Regions from separate parts of the Homo sapiens genome. Here all the other regions are linked to region 2. Evidence: fine-mapped expression QTL. A gene starts in region 2. Each other region holds a variant in brackets. All regions are shown on one strand. Distances are between the middles of the regions. Region 1 overlaps MED12L (mediator complex subunit 12L). Region 2 holds the start of P2RY13 (purinergic receptor P2Y13). Region 3 overlaps MED12L (mediator complex subunit 12L).

What was found. PIP is the estimated chance that this variant, and not a neighbour inherited with it, causes the effect.
Region 1: its variant is fine-mapped to the expression of P2RY13 in whole blood (TOPMed, PIP 0.95).
Region 3: its variant is fine-mapped to the expression of P2RY13 in whole blood (TOPMed, PIP above 0.99).

Annotation. Positions count from the first base shown.
Region 1 is chr3:151,369,812-151,376,965 of GRCh38, reverse strand. It overlaps MED12L (mediator complex subunit 12L), which reads right to left. Exons shown (of 45, transcript NM_001393769.1): 27 at 4,200-4,399; 28 at 752-940; 29 at 92-166. All of the region lies in intron 1 of P2RY12 (purinergic receptor P2Y12), which reads left to right. Among named protein-coding and RNA genes, the nearest start is that of P2RY12, 11 kb to the left of the region's middle. The variant G/A (reference allele first, on the strand shown) is at 3,514.
Region 2 is chr3:151,326,113-151,333,266 of GRCh38, reverse strand. It overlaps P2RY13 (purinergic receptor P2Y13), which reads left to right and starts at 3,718. Exons shown (of 2, transcript NM_176894.3): 1 at 3,718-3,786; 2 at 4,260-6,955. The coding sequence starts at 3,739. The coding sequence ends at 5,276. All of the region lies in intron 16 of MED12L (mediator complex subunit 12L), which reads right to left.
Region 3 is chr3:151,284,467-151,291,620 of GRCh38, reverse strand. All of the region lies in intron 16 of MED12L (mediator complex subunit 12L), which reads right to left. Among named protein-coding and RNA genes, the nearest start is that of P2RY14, 9.5 kb to the right of the region's middle. The variant T/C (reference allele first, on the strand shown) is at 3,822.

The sequences.
Region 1 (7,154 bases), 44 kb before region 2:
CACATATGTGTATTCCTTTATCCTCAAACATCAACGTGTTTTTGCTTTTTATAAAATTTCATACAGAGATAAGCTTTCAATATAAACTCACAGGGTCCTTCAAGCACTGTTTGATCATTAGCTGGAGTTCTAACCAGGATTGCCTCAGTGTCCACTGCTCAAGATTCTGGGAAAAATGGAAAGAATTAAAACATTATGGGTATCAAATGTGTTAAAATACAGTAATTTCTTACAGTACTCCTTCTCTCAAGAAAGAGCAGAATAATCATACACAATGAAATAATTTATATGAGTCAAAAGGTTCCCAATCTTGCTGCATATATATTCAGTAGCGATACAAACCAATAAACAGAAACATTAATTATTAATTAGTTAATACTGTGCCTGACTCAGCTATGCACTGAAACTAAATAAGCATTTCTCCTTTCAAAATCTATTTAACCAATCCCAATCCAAAATGATTTCAATATTTCTTTAATAATATATTTAACATAGCCCCTCTCTGAAGCATATTTCTCATGTAAATACAATACTGATTTAAAATATCAATATTTGTTTGATGATCATATACAATTTGCAGCATGTACATCCACCCAAAAATAAAGTATGTCAATTCCACAGAAAATGTGTGGGAATAAAAATCAGAATTGAAATCACAAATTAGCAAGGACAAAAAAAGAGAGGAAGTAACTCTTTTTATTATTACGAAGAATTTATCAAATGACAGAAACACAATCTGTATACGACTGACCTGAAGAATACGCTTAATGTGCTGTCTTTGCAGATTGTCCCCCTCGGTACATTCTTTAATGCCATGAGGATAACAGATAAGCTGCAGTAATTTCTGTGCTTGCATATTTGAAAGCACAGGGTCCAATATAAGTTCTTTGTCTGTACATAATCTTTCAGGTTCTTTTAAGCAATGCTCTCCTACCCATTCCTAAAAATAATATGGCAATTAGATTGACAGGCACTGGCTTTCGGTATATATATATGCAATATGTACTAAATCCACAGTGCATAATTGAATAGAAAACTGATAGGAATTTTCCAATTTAAAAAATTACATTAAAAAGTAGGTAGAAAAATTTTAAAAAACAAAATTTTTAGCATTTTGGCTTCTAAAAAATACAAAGTAGAACTTGCTTAAAAACATTTTTTAATGGGAAAAAAGAAAAGACAATAAAGAGAATATTAGTATGTTTTTAACTGGAAAGTAAGGTCTTGCTCTAGGCACTATTTTGTGTCAGTTTTTTCTAACTTGCTATATAATGATTCTATCAGATATACGTTCTTCATAATTTTTATGGAATACATTGTACTATCTCACTGACTAGATACAACATAGTATAACAAATATTTAGAAAACGATCTTCCTTTTTGATACTATTATGAATAATGTTATCATTATAAATGAGTAGTAGTGCACATCTCTTTTTTATACAATAATTTTCTTAGGGTAATTTCATAGAAGTGCAATTGCTGGGTCCAGTGTGAGTGGGGGGCTATAGATGCATGGGGTTAATGACCCTCTGAAGAGTTTCTACCAATTTAAACTCCTATTGCCTTTTCTTTACCATTTTTTTCAAAGGCAAATTATTATACTAAATAAAGTAAGAAATCATCAACAGTAACAGAGCCCAATTTGAACCCAGATCTATTTCGGGTGAAGTCTGTTTTTTAACCACCATACCAGTGGCTCAATGCTGGTTGCCCACTAAAATTACCTGGGATCTTTATAAAATTCCATGCCCAGGGCCCACATCAGACTAATTAAGTCAAACTCAGGTGGTGGCACCCAAATATCAGTAATTTTTTAGGCATCCAAATTGTTTTAAATGCCCCAGCTGATTCCAATATGCACTCACAGTTGGGAACCAACACACAATTGCCTCTCAATACTTATATGACTATGTAGCTATCTTTTACCATAGTTATAACATGCCTGTAAAAATACAAAAACATGACCCAGTCGGTATGACACCTATAGCAAAGTACAAAATAATATATAAGGTATGTCACTTTTTTTTTATAAGAGAACTTTTAAAACAAATATATGGGAGGGAGAATAAACCAAAAAATAATAAAACTGGATCATCTGGTAAGAGGGATATGGGAGGGAGACACATCTCTGAGTATACTTTTTTGTATAGTTTCACTTTTGAAAGTAAGCTATTCTATAGCCAGAGCTGGGGACAAGAAAGGAATTTAAATAATGCAAAACCAAATGAACCTAGTTCTATTTCACATAAAGAATACACTCATAGGGATGGGAAAAGTTCAAATAATTTTTGAACACAGTATTTTAAACCCTTAGAGAAAATGGAATTGCAAACAAATCTTCAAAGCCTTTTAGGTAGGTTTGTTCTTCCTAGTGGTATGTGTGTAACATTTCTTTCTTTCTTTCTTTCTTTCTTTGAGACAGAGTCTTGCTCTCTTACCAGGGCTGGAGTGCAGTGGCGCAATCTCGGCTCACTGCAACCTCCGCCTCCCAGTTTCAAGCGATTCTCATGCCTCAGCCTCCCAAGTAGCTGGGATGACAGGCATGTGCCACCACACCTGGCTAATTTTTGTATTTTTAGTAGAGATGGGGTTTCACCATGTTGGCCAGGCTGGTCTCAAACTCCTGGCCTCAAGTGATCCACCTGCCTCAGCCTCCCAAAGTGCTGGGATTACAGGCTTGAGCCGCTGCGCCCTAGCCTAGTGTACATTTTTGATACTGTATTTTAATTAATCATTTTTTGACAAAGCGCTGGATAGCACATTTAACATGCCCGGCCATGTGTAACATTTTAAAACTATTTCAGATGTATCATAGAATTAAACAAACAAGTAAATTGACGTTTTTGGGAATCAGCATTCTTACTAGGGAAGAAGGTGATACTAATATGAATTAGGGGAAAACACAGAACAACTTTGTGGGGTTGGATTGGAATTGAAGGTATCAGTAGGACCTCATAAATATATATATTTACATATATTTAAGTGTATGGATATATTTTTCTTTCTAGCTTTGTCTGCAGACAGGTCGTAGAATTAATGATACTCCATAACCATGAGCATACATAATACCCAGATCTTGGTTTCTCAGTAACGTTCTCTGCTAAATAGAACCAAGGGCTCCTTGGAGGAATAGTTGATTCCAGGCCCGGGGCAGAGAAAGTACAACATGGGCCAGAAACTATGAAAATACCAACTATTTTTAAAATGTCAAATGATGTGATAGGATGAATAGATTCCTACTGCACAAATCTGGGACAGTCTGAACATGAAAATAACTAAGTACAGTATATTATAACCCATATGGATAATAAATAAACAGGGGAGAGGAGGGCAGGCTCTTCCTTAAAATAGGACACAAACTGATATTATGAAGGGAGAGGAGAAGTTGGGGAAAAAAAAAAACCACCATTTTGCAACCATCATAGTAAAGACTAGACTGGGCAAGAATGAAAATGAATGCTTATGAGGGGTGGGGGAGTTAAACAAGGAGAAGAAAATTTGCACTGTCTC[G/A]AAGTATCTCCTCAAAGATTGCTTACTGCAAGGGGAAAATTAGTAACTACACAGTCCCCACTGTATAGTTACTAATCTTGAAACTATACAATGGAAACATCTTAATCAAAATTAACATCACCCTTGAGGTGCAAATGGACATCACATGCCTTCAGACATGATTACCTGAAAGAACTCAAGATTATTTCTGTAGTATCTTGGCCAGGGATGCATAATCTGAAGCTAATCTACAGGAAACCTCAGACAAATCCAACAATACTGGGACAATTAATAAAATCGAACTGTGGCCTATAGATGAGAAAAAATTACTGTACCAAAAGCTAAATTTTCTGATGTTTAATAGCTATATTTTGGTTATGTTATGAAATAATGCAATATTCAAAAGAATAAAATATACAATCTACTCTTAAATGATTCAGAAAAAATAGGTATATGCACCCACATCTCCACATACAAATTACAAAGCACATGTAGCAAAATGTAAAAATTAGTAAATCCGTGTAAAGGATGGACATGAGTTTTTTAAAAATAATTCTTGCAACTTTTCAGCAAACTTAAAATTATTTCGAAATAAAGTGAGCAAGAAAAAAAGGCCCACCTATGCACAAGTTTCCTATAAGTGTAAGTAGCTCTCTCCAAAAGAAGAGTTACGTACTCAAAGTAAAAGGCAAATTAAATTAGAATACCTGTTGACAGATAGTCCTCAGTACATATCTAGCGTATTCTCTTAAATTGGCAGTTTCTATGGAAATGCTTTTCCCACAGGATTTTGGATTTTGTGAGGCAGTCCAGATATCATCAGCATTCCCATCACATCGCAAACCTCTCATGGTGAAGTCATCATTCTTTAAAGAGCTGACACTGTTATTGCCAATTTTGGCATCTCCTAAGTAATAGAATCACAAAAGCAAAATCACAGAAGTTCAAAATATTGCCAAATAATTGAGGAGCAAATGAGGATAGCATTCAGGGATTTAAAATATATGAACAGTATTATTATTGAATAGCCAGTTGTTCAGGAATAGAGAGAATGGATCAAGAGCATAAATGCATGAACCCAGAGAAGTTTCTAACAGAAATGGAGAAAAAGCAAGTTCAAGACTCGGTCCTTATTTTGTTTGTATAATTATAGTTTCACCAAACTTGGAAAGGCCATTATGAATCACACTAAGTAATCAGAGAACATTGGTTTCACCAATATTTCAAGCATGAATGTATTCAAATTCATTTGACTTATAGACAAGGAAAAAATGGGTTACTCACCCTTCTAGATGTCCCTTTTCCATTTCTTCTCTTACAATGACTTATTTTCTATCCATAGGTCAAGAGAAAAGTTTTGCCTTAGCCCACCTTACTATCAACTTCTTGACAAGAGAGATTTATTTCCCTGGGAATGGAAAAGGGCAATGCATACTAAGGAAGCCCTGAAAAGTAGGGCATTCATTGAATAACCCCTGTTTTTTTACCTTCCTCTCTGTAACATACAAATTAGAAAACCTTACCTGATAAATCTTTAGTATACTTAGTGAAATGAAGCTAAGGAAAGTGTTTTCTTCATAACAAAGTTCTGGGAAAGAAACTAAACAGAATGTCTGAATAGCTAGAAATAAGAAAACTCTAGCCATGAGAGACAAATAACTATCATATTTTAAAAGTGAGAGAGTAATAAAAATTCAAAATAAGGATTGCCAAATGACAGCACAGCCTTCAAACTTTTGCCTTTTACTCACAGGATCATAGGCCTTGACAAGAAAATTTCCTGGAACCAACAAATGCTTTTACAGTAGGCCTTCACTGCTTGCAGCAAGTGGGCAAAACAATGCCCAAGTTAATGGAAAAAGCCTTTTAAAACCCACAAGTCAACCAAGAAAAAGTTTTGACTTTGCTGAAAAAAATGGCTTACTGAGTATTTACTAACAAAATCTTAAGCAGAGGAGAGGAATAAATAATGTATTTCAATTTATCAATATATAATCATATGTTTCTCATTAAAATACAAACACAAAGAGTACCAGCTTCACTTTACCCACAGGATTTCATTTAATAGATCACTTCAGGAGCTGAAAGAAAAGACTAAATTCTGCAAGTACCAAAATGTAGTATGCTTTCACTACCGTTAGGTGATGTAAACAACTACCTCTATACCTTGAGTTACATTGTAGAAATTAAAAACCAAATTTGATATAATGGTCCCATCTCCCTAACTCAAAATATATCCTGGTGGATAGGAATTGAGAGTTGGTTAGGGCATGGTAGGGTGGATAAATTAGAGCTTCTGCAAATAAGAAAAGAGAAGAAAGGAAAAGAAAAGAAAGAGAAAAAACAGTACCTGCTAGCCCCATACTAGGAGATCCTCATTTAGTTTAGATGTTAGGACAACAGAGAAGGTATGAGAGTCTGTGCCAGGCCTTCTGCAATTGCATTGACAATAGAATACATTTGAGCGTTCAGTGCCCACCTGGCTCAAAGCTCTGCTGACGTTAAACTGACCTGATCCTGACTTCTTAGACCCAGGGAATCCTCCAAATTATGTGGATGAAGAGGTGGGCAAATTCTACTTGAGATTAGACTAATCCTACAAATCATGGGGCCAGTGTCTAGAAGGTACTCATCTTGGTTTCTGCCATTAGCATATTTGTCATTTATAGATTCACACTTCCAACATAATTTTATTGAAAACTGATTCTTTGCTAGCTTCTCTGATGAGCACTAGAAATACCACAGGTAAAAAAGCCAGTCCCTATCTCTATGGTCCCTACATTTATTTATTAAGTAGAACCGACCAACTGACCTTCCCTTCAAATATGATCACAGTAGGGAAATTCTACTCACTGAAATGAGCACTTAATGTTGGCTGTATAAATCTATAAGCGCCTACACTCAGAGGAGGCTGTGGTCCTTGACGTGGCTCTACCTCCCCTTTTTACTACAAAATTCACAGGCCCGTGTGTGTATCCTTTCTTAAGGTGAAGTTTTAATAGCTTGTTTTATGAAAATTCTGTTATCCTTCCTCATCATCACCAAATAACATTTCCAAAGCAGAGCAAGATTATAGCCCAAAACATGTTATTTAGGACTCATCTAAAGCAATTCCTATCCACTCAGTAATTTCTGTTCTAATGAAGGGGAGCTACTTCTGAACATAAGAGTCAAGACCAAAAGAAGGTACCCAAAGTTGGAATTAGGCAGTCTGACTTGAAGACTTCCTAATCATTCAAAGCCTTTAAGATTTACAGAATAATGTTTTAATGTATTACCCTGTAAATGAAGAGAAAAGGCAGTGCTATTATTCCAGGAAAATTCTTACAAATAAGGATGTAAAGAACATCTTGGACATTATGAATTAAATGAAAAAAATTATTGTGAAACTTAATATTGATTTATCAATAATATCAACATCATTGCAACTATTGCCTGGGTCATCAAAAAACAAAGGTAGAAGGAAATATACTCGTTCAGGGTCATGATAGGAGCAAAAATACTAAGATTAAGACTCAGATTTTCTGGTGTTCTGCTCCTGAAATATAATCTGGATAAAATGTAAACATTTAGTTAGATTACCAAGTCATCCCTGTCTCTCACAAAGTGTGATTTCTGCCACCAGAGAAGGCAAAACAACCCTGTGGGTCTGAGGACCTATT
Region 2 (7,154 bases):
TGACTGGGTATATACATAAAGGAATAGGCGTTATTCTATCATAGAGACACATGCATGTGTGTGTTCATCACAGCACTATTCACAAAAGCAAAGACACAGAAGCAACCTAAATTCTTATCATTGGTATACTGGATAAAGAAAATGTGGTACATATACACCATGAGATACTATGCAGCCACACAAAAGAAAGAGATCGTGTCCTTTGCAACAACATGGATGAAGCTGGAGGCCATTATTCTAAGCAAACTAACACAGGAACAGGAAACCAAACACCAGATGTTGTCACTTGTTAGTGGGAGCTAAACATTGAATTCATATGGACACAAAGAAGGAAACAACAAACACCAGGGCCTACATTGAGGGTAGTGGGTGGGAGGAGGGTAAGGACTGAAAAACTACCTATCCGGTACCATGCTTATCACCTGGGTGACAAAATAATCTGTACACCAAACCCCTACAAAACACAATTTACCTATGTAACAAACCTGCACATGTACCCCTGAACCTAAAATAAAGTTAAAAAAAAAATCACGTCAGTCTACATGTACTAACATGGAATGAAACAAAAATCCAATACATAAATAAATGTAAATATATTTGTACACATATATTGGTATGTATATGTATTAACTTTCACTTTCTACTATATATGTTTGTATTTCAATTTTTAAACATAGTGTGAAATATTAAATGTTCCAAATAGCAGTGAATTTATTGCCTATCTCTAGCTACATGTAGATATTTTCTACTATTGTTCTTACTCAGAAAAACAGATTGTTACATTAATAAAAAGTATAACTTATTTCAGCTTATTATTACCACTTTTAGTTTACCACTTTTAGTTACTCTTGTATGGAATTTTTAAAACAATTTCACATAATCTGAGAAAGTACCATGGTATACTTTGATGGGAAGTAAAAGTCTTTTCTAAGAGTATAGAAGTATAGGAGTTCCTACTTCAATTTTCATCCCAAATGAAAGCAAATACTTCCTCATCTTTTCACATATTATTTATATGGTACTGGGCCTTGGACTGTCAATTTTGATGCAACTGAGAAATCCCAAATAAGACTACAAATGGAAATAGTAGTTTATTCCTATCTGGCTAGAGACTGATTTCTGTGACTTTTCATTTTATCTTCTTTGTATCCCTTCTGATCACACTGCTTTCACTCAATTTACATTGGCATAAAGTTTCACAAGTCCATTAAACATTGTGGCTGATTGTTTCCTTCTCACACATCAGGAACTTTCAGCTCAAGAACTCCAGAATTTGGCAAACAATTCCACTGTCACCCTATCTATGGCTTAATCGGAGGCAAGAGAGTGAGGCAGGTTCCAAGCATGGGCTCTGGAACCAGACCAACTGTGTGACTTTACGGCAGATTTGGGTTGCATGATATGGGGAAAATGGCTTAACTTCTGCATTTCCTTTTTTCTCAACTCTAAAAATGGGACCAATCTCTGGGGATTGTTAAGGATTAAATAAGATAATATAATCACTTAAAACAGTATAGCTAGTGTGACTTTACTGATTTTTAACTACATTTCCTTAGAGCCCTATAGGATCTTAAATGTTTAGTTTATTCCCATTTGATAGGCTCCTAGCCTCTGGGATCTTTCACTGTATCTTCTTTGATTCTTCTCTCCTTTCGTGAGACATCACCATATGTATGCACAACATTCCAATTTTCTTTCAATTTCATTTAACAAGAAACCTACATGATACCTACCACATGACAGACATTATTCTAAGCACTGGTGAATGTTCACTCATTTTATTCTTTTAACAACACTGTAAAGCAAATACTATTATTTATTTTTATTGTAAAGATAAGGCAACCATTTCATAGTGGGCATAAGCAGCTTGCCTAAGGTCATAAGAAAAGAAAGAATTGGAAAAAGGAATTGAGCCCAGGCACTCTGGCGCCTAAACATTCTGCTGAGCAGCTTCTCAGCTGTGTCTTCAAGGGCAAAAGGCCTCCCCAGCAGGCAATAGTGCTGCTGTAAACTAAGGAAAAATCAGCTAATACATAAGAAGCACAAACACATAGAAATGAATGATCTATTGGATATTTACTATAGTCAAACACTTTGACATCTACCACATTTAAGAGACTCTATTTCCATAACTCTAGAAACAGGCACTGTAAGTCAGTTCCTCTTTGGAAAGTTTCCCACACTTCAGTGTTTTGAAATTTGACCAAGAAGTGATTTCCAGTTTTCAGATTATGAAATTATCCTGCACAGAATTTATCTTGCTTAAAGAAAAACTATTCCAGATCTTCCTTTAGATTATGGATTTGGGGCTATAGGAAAATTTACAATTAATTTTGTAGGTTAAATTTCTCTACTTAAGAAATAAAGGATTTTTTTTCCTCTGCTGAAGCAAACAAAAAGATATACATTTATGTTTAAGACATACATGTATGTTCTATTAATGAAATCTTGAATCTATACTCCCAAGGATTAATTTATTTCAGTCAAAGAGAAATTTTTCAAACTGTGCCGTTATTGGGTAGTCTAATCAAAACTATTAGACACTGTATTGCCTCATATTTTAAAATGTCCAGGGGGATATTAAGTTTTTCTTCTCAGAATTCAAAGCCAAGTCACCCAAAACTTTGTGATCAACTAACACTAGTCTCGTCTAACTCCATGGTAACACTTGTGGCAAGAAACATGAAATGAAACTCACCATGAACTCCACATCCTCCGTAAGATCTCCTAATTTCCGCTTTTCCTATGCCTACCTGGCAAGTAGATTTCTGCCATGGACAACAACTTTCTCTATGCAAAAGCACCATTACATCTTTCAAACTTGAAGAGAATTAAAGCAAAAAAAATGCACAGATATTGGCCCAATGTTGATTGATGAAATTCCTGAAGTCCTCTGCACTCGAAATACACCAAATACAAAAAAGATTTCTAAAAATGGCCCTCTACTAAGTGAAAGAGTATAATATCTCTATCTGGATTTGCAATTCATTCCCATGGCAATGGGACTAAAAGCCACTAAAAGTGGCTAACATTTTTTAGTGCCTCCTATATGTCAAGCACTATTCCAGGCAACCAATTCATTCTTAATAACACAGTGTGTTAGATACTATTTTCAAACCCATTACACAGATGAGGAAATTGAGACACAGAGCTGTTGAATCATTTATCTATAATCTAATCCCAATTAATTGGTGGAACTGGGATTCTAACTCCAAAAATCTGGATCTAATAGTCTTCACCTCTCAGAAAACATCATGTTAACTCTCAGAGATCCCCAAACCAGAAGACTAAGTCAAATACCTACAAAAATAAACATACCGTCTTCCTGAACACAAATTACTGGAAAATCCAGTTTACAAGGATACAGAAGATTATTCTGTCTGATTTTAGGTAGTCTTATTCTCCTACTTGATTGTAATTTGGGACTATTTTCTTCATCTTTCTACTTTCCACTATATACAAGAGGCACTCAAAAAGTTCACTGAACATGCAGATCAAGAAGATAAACTTCAAGAAAGTTATGAAGAAATTTAAAGATAATTGCAAATAAGCTTCTTTATTCAAGTCACAGATTAACAGTATGAAAGTTTGAACTAAAATAGAGTATTAGCAAATGTCCCAAAGGTCTAAATATGAAGAGGTTCTAATGGGTCACATTACATAAGTAAAAATAAGGAAGGAAATCCACTATAAGAAAGCAGAACATTTGCTTCACATGCTCATTTGTAGGCTGAACTAATGACTGCCGCCATAAGAAGACAGAGAGAACTGAGTATCCTCCCAAAGGTGAATTTCAATTTTTGTTATTATGAGTGTGCTTGCTTATATAAAAGAATATGCTTAAGGGAAAAAAGGTGCTTTAAAGTTAATATTCTACAAACCATAGTTTATGAGCATAAGAAATTACATAATTTACAGCAATCTGATGTATTAGTAATAATAATGTATTATTATCTCTTAAACAGTGTTTTGTTTTATGGCTAACAGTAGCACCTGTGAATGAGGCAGAACCTGTTATTTGGATTTCACAAGGATGTGAAAGTAATGGTACTGTTAAAAGTACCAAAAATGTATTATATGCTTTAAAAATTCTAGCCAGAAAACAGTATTTTCCTTTTCAACACATCTATTGAAAGTGTTGGATAAATGCAGGATGTTAATATGCTATAAACATAAAGTCTGTTTTTAAAAAATAGCATTTGAAAATCATGAAGGGCTTTTTGTTTTCTTTTGTTTGTATATATGTTTATTGGTAACAGGTGACACTGGAAGCAATGAACACCACAGTGATGCAAGGCTTCAACAGATCTGAGCGGTGCCCCAGAGACACTCGGATAGTACAGCTGGTATTCCCAGCCCTCTACACAGTGGTTTTCTTGACCGGCATCCTGCTGAATACTTTGGCTCTGTGGGTGTTTGTTCACATCCCCAGCTCCTCCACCTTCATCATCTACCTCAAAAACACTTTGGTGGCCGACTTGATAATGACACTCATGCTTCCTTTCAAAATCCTCTCTGACTCACACCTGGCACCCTGGCAGCTCAGAGCTTTTGTGTGTCGTTTTTCTTCGGTGATATTTTATGAGACCATGTATGTGGGCATCGTGCTGTTAGGGCTCATAGCCTTTGACAGATTCCTCAAGATCATCAGACCTTTGAGAAATATTTTTCTAAAAAAACCTGTTTTTGCAAAAACGGTCTCAATCTTCATCTGGTTCTTTTTGTTCTTCATCTCCCTGCCAAATACGATCTTGAGCAACAAGGAAGCAACACCATCGTCTGTGAAAAAGTGTGCTTCCTTAAAGGGGCCTCTGGGGCTGAAATGGCATCAAATGGTAAATAACATATGCCAGTTTATTTTCTGGACTGTTTTTATCCTAATGCTTGTGTTTTATGTGGTTATTGCAAAAAAAGTATATGATTCTTATAGAAAGTCCAAAAGTAAGGACAGAAAAAACAACAAAAAGCTGGAAGGCAAAGTATTTGTTGTCGTGGCTGTCTTCTTTGTGTGTTTTGCTCCATTTCATTTTGCCAGAGTTCCATATACTCACAGTCAAACCAACAATAAGACTGACTGTAGACTGCAAAATCAACTGTTTATTGCTAAAGAAACAACTCTCTTTTTGGCAGCAACTAACATTTGTATGGATCCCTTAATATACATATTCTTATGTAAAAAATTCACAGAAAAGCTACCATGTATGCAAGGGAGAAAGACCACAGCATCAAGCCAAGAAAATCATAGCAGTCAGACAGACAACATAACCTTAGGCTGACAACTGTACATAGGGTTAACTTCTATTTATTGATGAGACTTCCGTAGATAATGTGGAAATCAAATTTAACCAAGAAAAAAAGATTGGAACAAATGCTCTCTTACATTTTATTATCCTCGTGTACAGAAAAGATTATATAAAATTTAAATCCACATAGATCTATTCATAAGCTGAATGAACCATTACTAAGAGAATGCAACAGGATACAAATGGCCACTAGAGGTCATTATTTCTTTCTTTCTTTTTTTTTTTTTTTAATTTCAAGAGCATTTCACTTTAACATTTTGGAAAAGACTAAGGAGAAACGTATATCCCTACAAACCTCCCCTCCAAACACCTTCTCACATTCTTTTCCACAATTCACATAACACTACTGCTTTTGTGCCCCTTAAATGTAGATATGTGCTGAAAGAAAAAAAAAACGCCCAACTCTTGAAGTCCATTGCTGAAAACTGCAGCCAGGGGTTGAAAGGGATGCAGACTTGAAGAGTCTGAGGAACTGAAGTGGGTCAGCAAGACCTCTGAAATCCTGGGTAAAGGATTTTCTCCTTACAATTACAAACAGCCTCTTTCACATTACAATAATATACCATAGGAGGCACAAGCACCATTATTAAGCCACTTTGCTTACACCTTAAGTGTGTACAATTCAAGTGTGAGAATGCTGTGTTAACTATTCTTTGGAATTCTCCTTCTGTCCAGCAAATACTCTAATGATGGTTAAACATGGCACCTACTCAGCAATGCCTTCCTGGACCACAACCCCTATCCCCCTGCCCCACCCTCCTCATTAAAAACAAATACTTCTACTGTTTGGGTGTGTGATAGGGTTCTCAATGCAGATCTCCCTTTTCTAGTTAGCTATATTCTTGACTGCATCCGCTAAAAATGTTAAAGCTTCTTGAGAGACAGACATGCCAGATTTTCTTGGTATCTCCCATAATACGACCTACAGTCCATGGTCTACAGATGTTTTAAATAGAATTGCTATTCTCGATACATACAAAGACGTAATTGCTGACCCACAATCAGTAACATCCATATTGAGAGATTTTTCAAAGGATGGTGACCCTGCTTGTATTTATTTACCTTGGTATTTTTTCTTGCATCCTTCTGTGATTCAAAAAAGTAAAATGTGGCTTTCTGAAATGATGGATAAGAGTCTACATCTTCTAGAAAAAATACATAAAGGAGTAGTTAAGCTCTGTAAATGTGCCACGAGCTCCAACACGACCATCGTAGGGTGAAGCCCACGTTTTCTTCCATGGCCTCAAAGGCCCTAGAACTTGCCTACCTTTCTGGCCTTACCTCCTAGCTACTTATCCATCTCTTGAACTTTATACTCTTGTATAAATTTCTAACTTTCAGAAAATGCCATACTCTGTTTTGGCACCACACATGTATATTTCCCCCTGGTACACTTGGAAGACTCTTATCCATCTGTGAAACCCTATGTTGTCATCACTTGGTCCATGAAATATTACCTGGCCAATATCCCACCATCACCTCAAACCCAATCACCCCCTCCTCTGTATGCTGTCACACCTATATTATTAAACTTATCACATTGCATTGTAATTACTTCCTGACCTTTGTATCTACTCTTTTAGTAACTGATGTATATATCTGAAAGGAGAGATTGTTTCATTGTGCAATCAATAAATGTTTGATAAAATAAAGCCCATTTGGTTTATTTTATGTATTAGAGAAGCAAAAGGGAAGCCAATTCTCATTGATGTTTTTATTATCCAAAGACAACATAAATTTCTTGAAATGAAAGCTCAAGCTCTGTCCACTCTCCTATAACATGTATGTAGGGCCTGAAAATTGTGGTGCTCCTGGGGTCACTAGTGAATGATCATGACAACAGGAGGATCA
Region 3 (7,154 bases), 42 kb after region 2:
TTGAAATCCAAAATTTCTTACTTAGGGCTTTTGGATTACATTCAGTATTTCAGAATCTTCTCAGAAAGCAATAAATAGTGTATTTATTCTTCCTTTTATGCAGAAAAGAAACATATTCAGAGAATTTCCAAAAGGAAATTTTCCATTCTTCATAAAACTGACATTCAGAGAAACTGATCTTGTAGAAAATCTTTCAATGTGTGTGTTACTGACTGTTATATTCATTAAACCACTTCATAAATATTTTACCCTCAATTTGAAATTGTATAATAGTATTTTGTTTCTCAACCATCGTTTCAAGAGAATGTGGTGCCTAAGGGAATGCAGAAATTTAAATACGTCAAAATTTTGTGTGTGTGCACACATGCAAACGAGAATAAATACAGCTTAAACATAAAAACATGTAATGACCACCATAAGGAAATGTGACATACTAGAAAAAAACAAATAAAAACAAAAAAAAAAAAAAACAGAAAACAAGGACAAAATAAAGCGTAGGAACCATTTAAATCTTATAAAGACTGTACCCAGACTAAGCACCACAAGAAGCCAATTATCAATAAATACTAAGCACACGCCATATAAAAAGATACTGTGCTCAGCATGATACATAAAAGAATCTCTGGATACCCCTAAATGACTTCTAAAATTAAATACTTAAGAACAAACATTTTCGATTTTCAACATAATACAAGTATCATAGTAGATGCAGAATTCAGCACACTCCCCAGTCTTCCATCACCATCTAGTGGTAAAATTCACAAAACAGGTGAAGAAAATTCAATTTTTGTCCTATTTACAGCATTCGAATTCACAGTAACACAGCCTAGCACTTTGCTAAAGTTTTCCTTTAAACATCCTTATTAATGCTAATGTATACAAATGTGTATCCTGCAGCTGCCTAGTTCAGTGTAATATGGAAATGCTTGATGAGAATAATTAATGCTGTCAAGAAGTTTTGTTACAGATGTAAAAAAAAAAAAAAACAAGGCTGTAATAACATGAATTTCATGGGAAAATGCTACAAATAGACTGTTCTTTCTAAATTAACTTATAGAAAAATTTTAAAAATGTATAATTTATAGTTTCAAAAGTATACAAAATCATCATTAGAACTGAATAGGGAGGAGTAAGACTACCAGTGTTAAATAAAATTTTCCATCAATTTATCAAGAAACTCCTAAGATTCACTTTGAATGCAACTTTCATTTTGAATACTCTTGAAGTTTTCTTATAAGCCACAATGAAAGGAAATCATCTAAAATTATAAAAATGATTTAAAAAAAAGTCATCCTTAGAGACACACATCTCTTTTTCTCCTTAGTTGGAAACTCAAGATACAGAATTAAATTGGAAATTCCTTTTATTTCAGTTTAGGCAAACATTTTTAATAAAAGTAAACTGGCCAACTTCTCTTTGAATTATGTTAGAGTACGGTCGGAAGTGGTGGCTCATGCCTGTAATCCTAGCACTTTGGGAGGCCAAGGTGATCACAAGGTCAGGAGTTCAAGACCATCCTGGCCAACATGGTGAAACCCTGTCTCTACTAAAAGAATACAAAAATTAGCCAGGCATGGTGGTGTGCACCTGTAATCCCAGTTACTCAGGAGGTTGAAGCAGAAGAATTGCTCAAACCCGGGTGAACCTGGGAGGCGGAGGTTGCAGTGATCCGAGATCGCACCACTGCACCCCAGCCCACGTGACAGAGCAAGACTCTGTCTTTAAAAAAAAAAAAAAAATTGTGTTCGAGAATATTCAGTGGTTGTAGTCTGGGCAGACTCCCCAGCAACTCCTAGAATTGAACCATACATCTGATTTAATCAGCCTATGACAAGAATCTGCAAATAGATACTAGGTTCCCCAGGGTCTCCAAGTCTAGGTATAGGTTTAAATGTTACATGCAAGACTTTTCAACATTCTGGACACATTTACATAAATATATATGCAGACAAACACATAGCATGTATAATTGAGGCTAACAAGTTTAGCATAAAGAATGTAAATCAGCCCCTTAACCCATGATAGTTTTTAAACAGTCTTAAAAAGCTATATACAATGCTTAAGATGGTTACTGCTAGCCTGAAGCAAAATATCTTTCGTAACACAGAAAGCCATCTGTCAATTACCCAACGATGAATTACCTCTACGTATTTTGCAAAAAACCTGAACCATATCATACGTCCTTGAATAGTTCTTGACTTCTTCTCAGTATATAACTTATAATACAGAGTGAGTATCTTTTTCTATGCCTTATAGAATTGTCATGTACCTTTGTAAGTATGAGTCAACTTCCAACATTTTATCCTTTGTGCTTTCTACGTCATGAAATATTTCAAAAATTCCTTAATTGTGAAGTTTCTTGTCAGCATCACTTACTCTGGGATAGCTCATCCGTTCCCTGTAGATGTTAATAACTTTGCCTTCATTAAGTTCATCTAACAGCATATTATAGAGGTTTAACCTTCCCCTGGTTAGCTATTTCTTTTGTATTTCCATATGCCTGTGATTCAAATTTCACTTCCTATATTATCACTTTTCATTTCTCTCCTGAACTTTAATTTTTGTTGGTATACCCTCTTTCAAATATCTCTTTTTGTAAAATGTCATGGAGTTTATTATTGGCAAACAAGGAGGCAACACAACTACACACTTTGCTGCCACCTGTGCATGAACTGAATACCAGATGTGCAGTGACCAATCTCCAACAGACTTTGAAAGAAGTGAGATGACTGGCCACTCCTGTATGTTATTTACATGATGAGCTGCGAACTGGAGAGCTATCAATTAAGTTTGATAGCTTTATGCAACTACTTACAGTTAATATAATGTGGTAACTAAAATTTGGACTGTTGCAGGGAGACTGGTATTATTTAACTAAATCATGATAACTCAAATACATGTCAGAACTGTGAAATCAAGGCCTGCCTGCAAGTGTATATGTAACCATAATCATAATTCAAAGGAAAAACGGAGAGAAAAATATATAATGACATGTAATGGAACATGTAAATGCTTAGGCAGAACTATTTGAAATAATGTCATTCATTCATTCAACATGAAGTGGTCAAATGCTTGGATCTATACATTTAATTATGTGAATTTTTAACAGATACAAATATTTGTGACCCAAACACAACTTATATCATTACCATTAGTGATGTGGATCTCCAAAATAAATAATTCTTGACAAGATTCCAAATAAAGTATTTAGTAGACAGTAGCTATATACTTGGAAAAATTAGGCTGGTGTCTATTAAACCAGAAAAAATACATTTATATGTAAAATAGACTTAAATTATAGGCTCAGATATTAATGAACAAGTTTTTCACCCATGGGAAAGTTAATGGGTCACTCCTATAAGCAGCATGGGACAATTCTTCACTGTGTAAGAATTGTGCCTCATACTTTGCATGCTATAAAGCATTCATGGTCCCAGCCACTGAACATAGGGACAACAAGAAAATATCCTGAAATCAACAAATACTCTCTGGGGCAGTAATGCCTACATTGAGAACCCTGATTGGATTCCTGAGCCATTTGTGGAAAGATAGAAGAATATGACCAAGGTTTCAAGCAATATAGAATCCCAGATCTCTAGATATCAGCAGGTACCAACCAAATTTGGGAAGGGATAGAGTATTAATAAATAAAGGGTAAACTTTTTCTGGGCCGCTTCTATTAATCACAAAAATGGTAAAAAAAGAAAGCAATGATTTCTATAAAGTTTATTAAAAAGCTTCAATAGATGACTGCTTTGAAGTTTTGTACAAATGCTATTTGAAAGATAACTGTAGATATATAGATATACTTCCCATAGAAA[T/C]CCCTAAAGAGGCAAGTTAAAAATAGTGATAATGATCAAATCTTACACAGTGCTCATCAGTCACTGTCCTACATGCTTTACTTTTTAATAAACCTTTAAATCGCCACAAGAACCTTATATAGTAGATATCCTATTACAGATGAAGAAACCGAGGCACACCTAGCTAGGAAGTGAAGTGATCGTGACAGGTTTTGAAGCTCTGGTGTCTGACTACAAAGTCCATGCTGTCACCAGGACTGCAATACTTTCTGTCTCCACCCCATCCAAGGAGGCCGCTTACCCTTGAACTCACTTAACAATACCATCATATACCCAGGCCCCTGAACTGAAAATCTGAGTGCCCTCTTTTCTTCATTCCCATTAACAACCTTTTACCAAATCCTGCCACTCCACCCCCAGAAATAGACAAGGCAGGTCTCTGCCCTGCCTGGCCTGGTACCCACTGTAGCTCAACCCCAGCAGTAGCAAGTCTGGTCTCATGGATAAGAAAGGATTTTGGAGGTAGGCAGACCTGTATCCCACCTCTTACTTTGTGCCATCTGAGAGAGGAAAAATAAACCAACTGCCATGATTTACATTGATGGCAATACTACTTGAGGTCTTGATTTTTCTGCTCCTTGCCAGTCTTTTGCATACTCTTTTCTAGAACTTTTAACATTGACTGATTATTTTCTAATAACATTAAAATACCTAATGTCTACTGAACACTCCCTACATACCAGCACCCGACTTGTATTAACCCATTTAATCCCCAAAACAAACCCATAAGGAAGTACTAGCATTGCCCCTAATTAGAGATGAAGAAGTAACTTTCTAAGGCTTGGGTTGAAGCTGGGAAGCCCTCTCAACTAAAGCCTGAAAAAACTGATTAATAAGCATAACAGACAATATCTAACTATGAGAACATTAGTTTAAGCCAATCAATCATACACTTTCGATCATTTTATTCCCTTATAATTATAAATTAGAATGGCTCATGTAATTTATTGTCAAAACCAGGACACTTTTGAGAGTGAAAGTGTTGCTTGCTGAGCTGGCACAACAGGTTTCAACTGGGACTGTGTAGGCAAACAAGAATATATGCCCCTATGTTCACAATACATAGGAAAATATGTCTATGTTAAGATAGCATTACCTAATAAAACAAGCAGCTTAAGGAAAAAGAACTCCATGAATCCAGCCATTTCATCAATGAGAAGCTCCCCCTCCTGTGAAGCTTCTTCCATGGAGCTAACACAAACTGTGAACCCCTGGATGCTGGATTAGCAGCTATTTAACAAAAATCTCTCATGGATGCTTCCTAAGAGCATGGAGAACAGTTTTCTGAGTTAGTGCCTATTGCTTGAAGTTTTTTGCTTAACACCACAAGAAGGAACACAGCCCATCCAATTTGAATATTTGCTTTTGCTTGCAGAAGGAATAAATAATTTAAATTCTAATTTATATTTTTTCTCTACTCCAAAGCAAAACTATCACAAATCTTTCCTAATACTATGGACTGGTAGGTACAAAATTTATGTTCTGTATTGATTTCAAGAGACCTTTAGAGACAGAAACTACATTTGCCTTTCCAAGGCACTGGTCTCCCTGCAGGCCACAACTAAATGAAAAGCTGATCAGGAGGTAGAGCCATGTGAGGGCACAGAGTACTCTAACTACAACAGCGGGGTCACAGGAAGTCTGTGATTCTCCTGAGAGAGACTGATGATTGCAAAGCCCAATCAAGTAGAAGGTGGGCTCTGAATAAATCCTCCTATCATAACCACACACCATCATACAACTCACCTCTCTTAGTTCATTCCTGCTGCTGTAACAAAATACTTTAAACTGGGTAATTTATAAACAACAGAAAGGTCTTGCTCACAGTCCTGAAAGCTGGGAAGTTCAAGATCAAGGAGCCAACGGATTCCATGTGAGGTGAGGACCTATTCCTCATGGATGGTGCCCTGTGTCCTTACATGGCGGAAGGTCAAAGGGCCTCTTTTATACAACCACTGATCCCATTCACAAGGGCTCTACCCTCATGGCCTAGTCACCTCCCAAAGGCCCCACCTCTTAATACCAACACATTGGGGATTAGATTTCAATATGTTTTTTTCTTTTATTTTTTTTTTATTTCAATAGGTTTTTGGGGGAACAGGTGGTGCTTGGTTACATGGAGAAGTTCTTTAGCGGTGATTTTTGAGATTTTGGTGCACCCATCACCCAAGCAGTGTACAATGTACCCAATGTGTAGTCATTTATCCCTGGCTCCCCTCCCATCCTTTCCCGAGTGCCCAAAGACCACTGTATTATTCTTTTTTTTTTTCTTTGAGACAGAGTCTCACTCTGTCACCCAGGCTGGAGTGCAGTGGCGCAATCTCTGCTCACTGCAAGCTCCGCCTCCTGGGTTCACGCCATTCTCGTCCTGCCTCAGCCTCCCGAGTAGCTGGGACTACAGGCACCCGCCACCACACCCGGCTAATTTTTTGTATTTTTTAGTAGAGACGGGGTTTCACCGTGTTAGCCAGGATGGTCTTGATCTCCTGACCTTGTGATCTGCCCACCTCAGCCTCCCAAAGTGCTGGGATTACAGGCGTGAGCCACCACGTCCGGCCAGTCCACTGTATTATTCTTATGCCTTTGTATCCTCATAGCTAAGCTCCCACTTATAAGTGAGAACATATGCTTGGTTTTCCATTCCTGAGTTACTTCATTAAGAATAATGATCTCTAACTCCATCCAGGTTACTGCAAATGCCATTATTTTGTTTCTTTTTATCAACACATAAATATTAGAGGGACACAAACATTCAGACCACAGCACCACCTCATGACCACTGAGAATTAGACAAGGGTAACCAGCACAGCTGTTCCTTAAATGGCTCATTCAAAGACTAAATATAAAATTTTGGGCTGGGCACAGTGGCTCACGCCTGTAATCCCAGCACTTTGGGAGGCCAAGGTGGGTGGATCACCTGAGGTCGGGAGTTCGAGACCAGCCTGACCAACATAGAGAAACCCTGTCACTACTGAAAATACAAAATTAGCCAGGTGTGGTGGTGCATGCCTGTAATCCCAACCACTTGGGAGGCTGAGGCAGAAGAATCACCAGAACCCGGGAGGCGGAGGTTGTGGTGAGCTGAGATCACGCCATTGCACTCCAGCCTGGGCAACAAGGGCGAAAACTCTGTCTCAAAAAACAAACAAACAAACAAACAAACATACATAAAAAATTTGGCCTCACTGATTCTTCATTCTGATTAAACTAACAGGTCCACACATAATAGCCTAAGAATAACTGTTGTGCTCAAATTATTAATTATAAAGATATGCAGCTCTCTACAGCATTAAT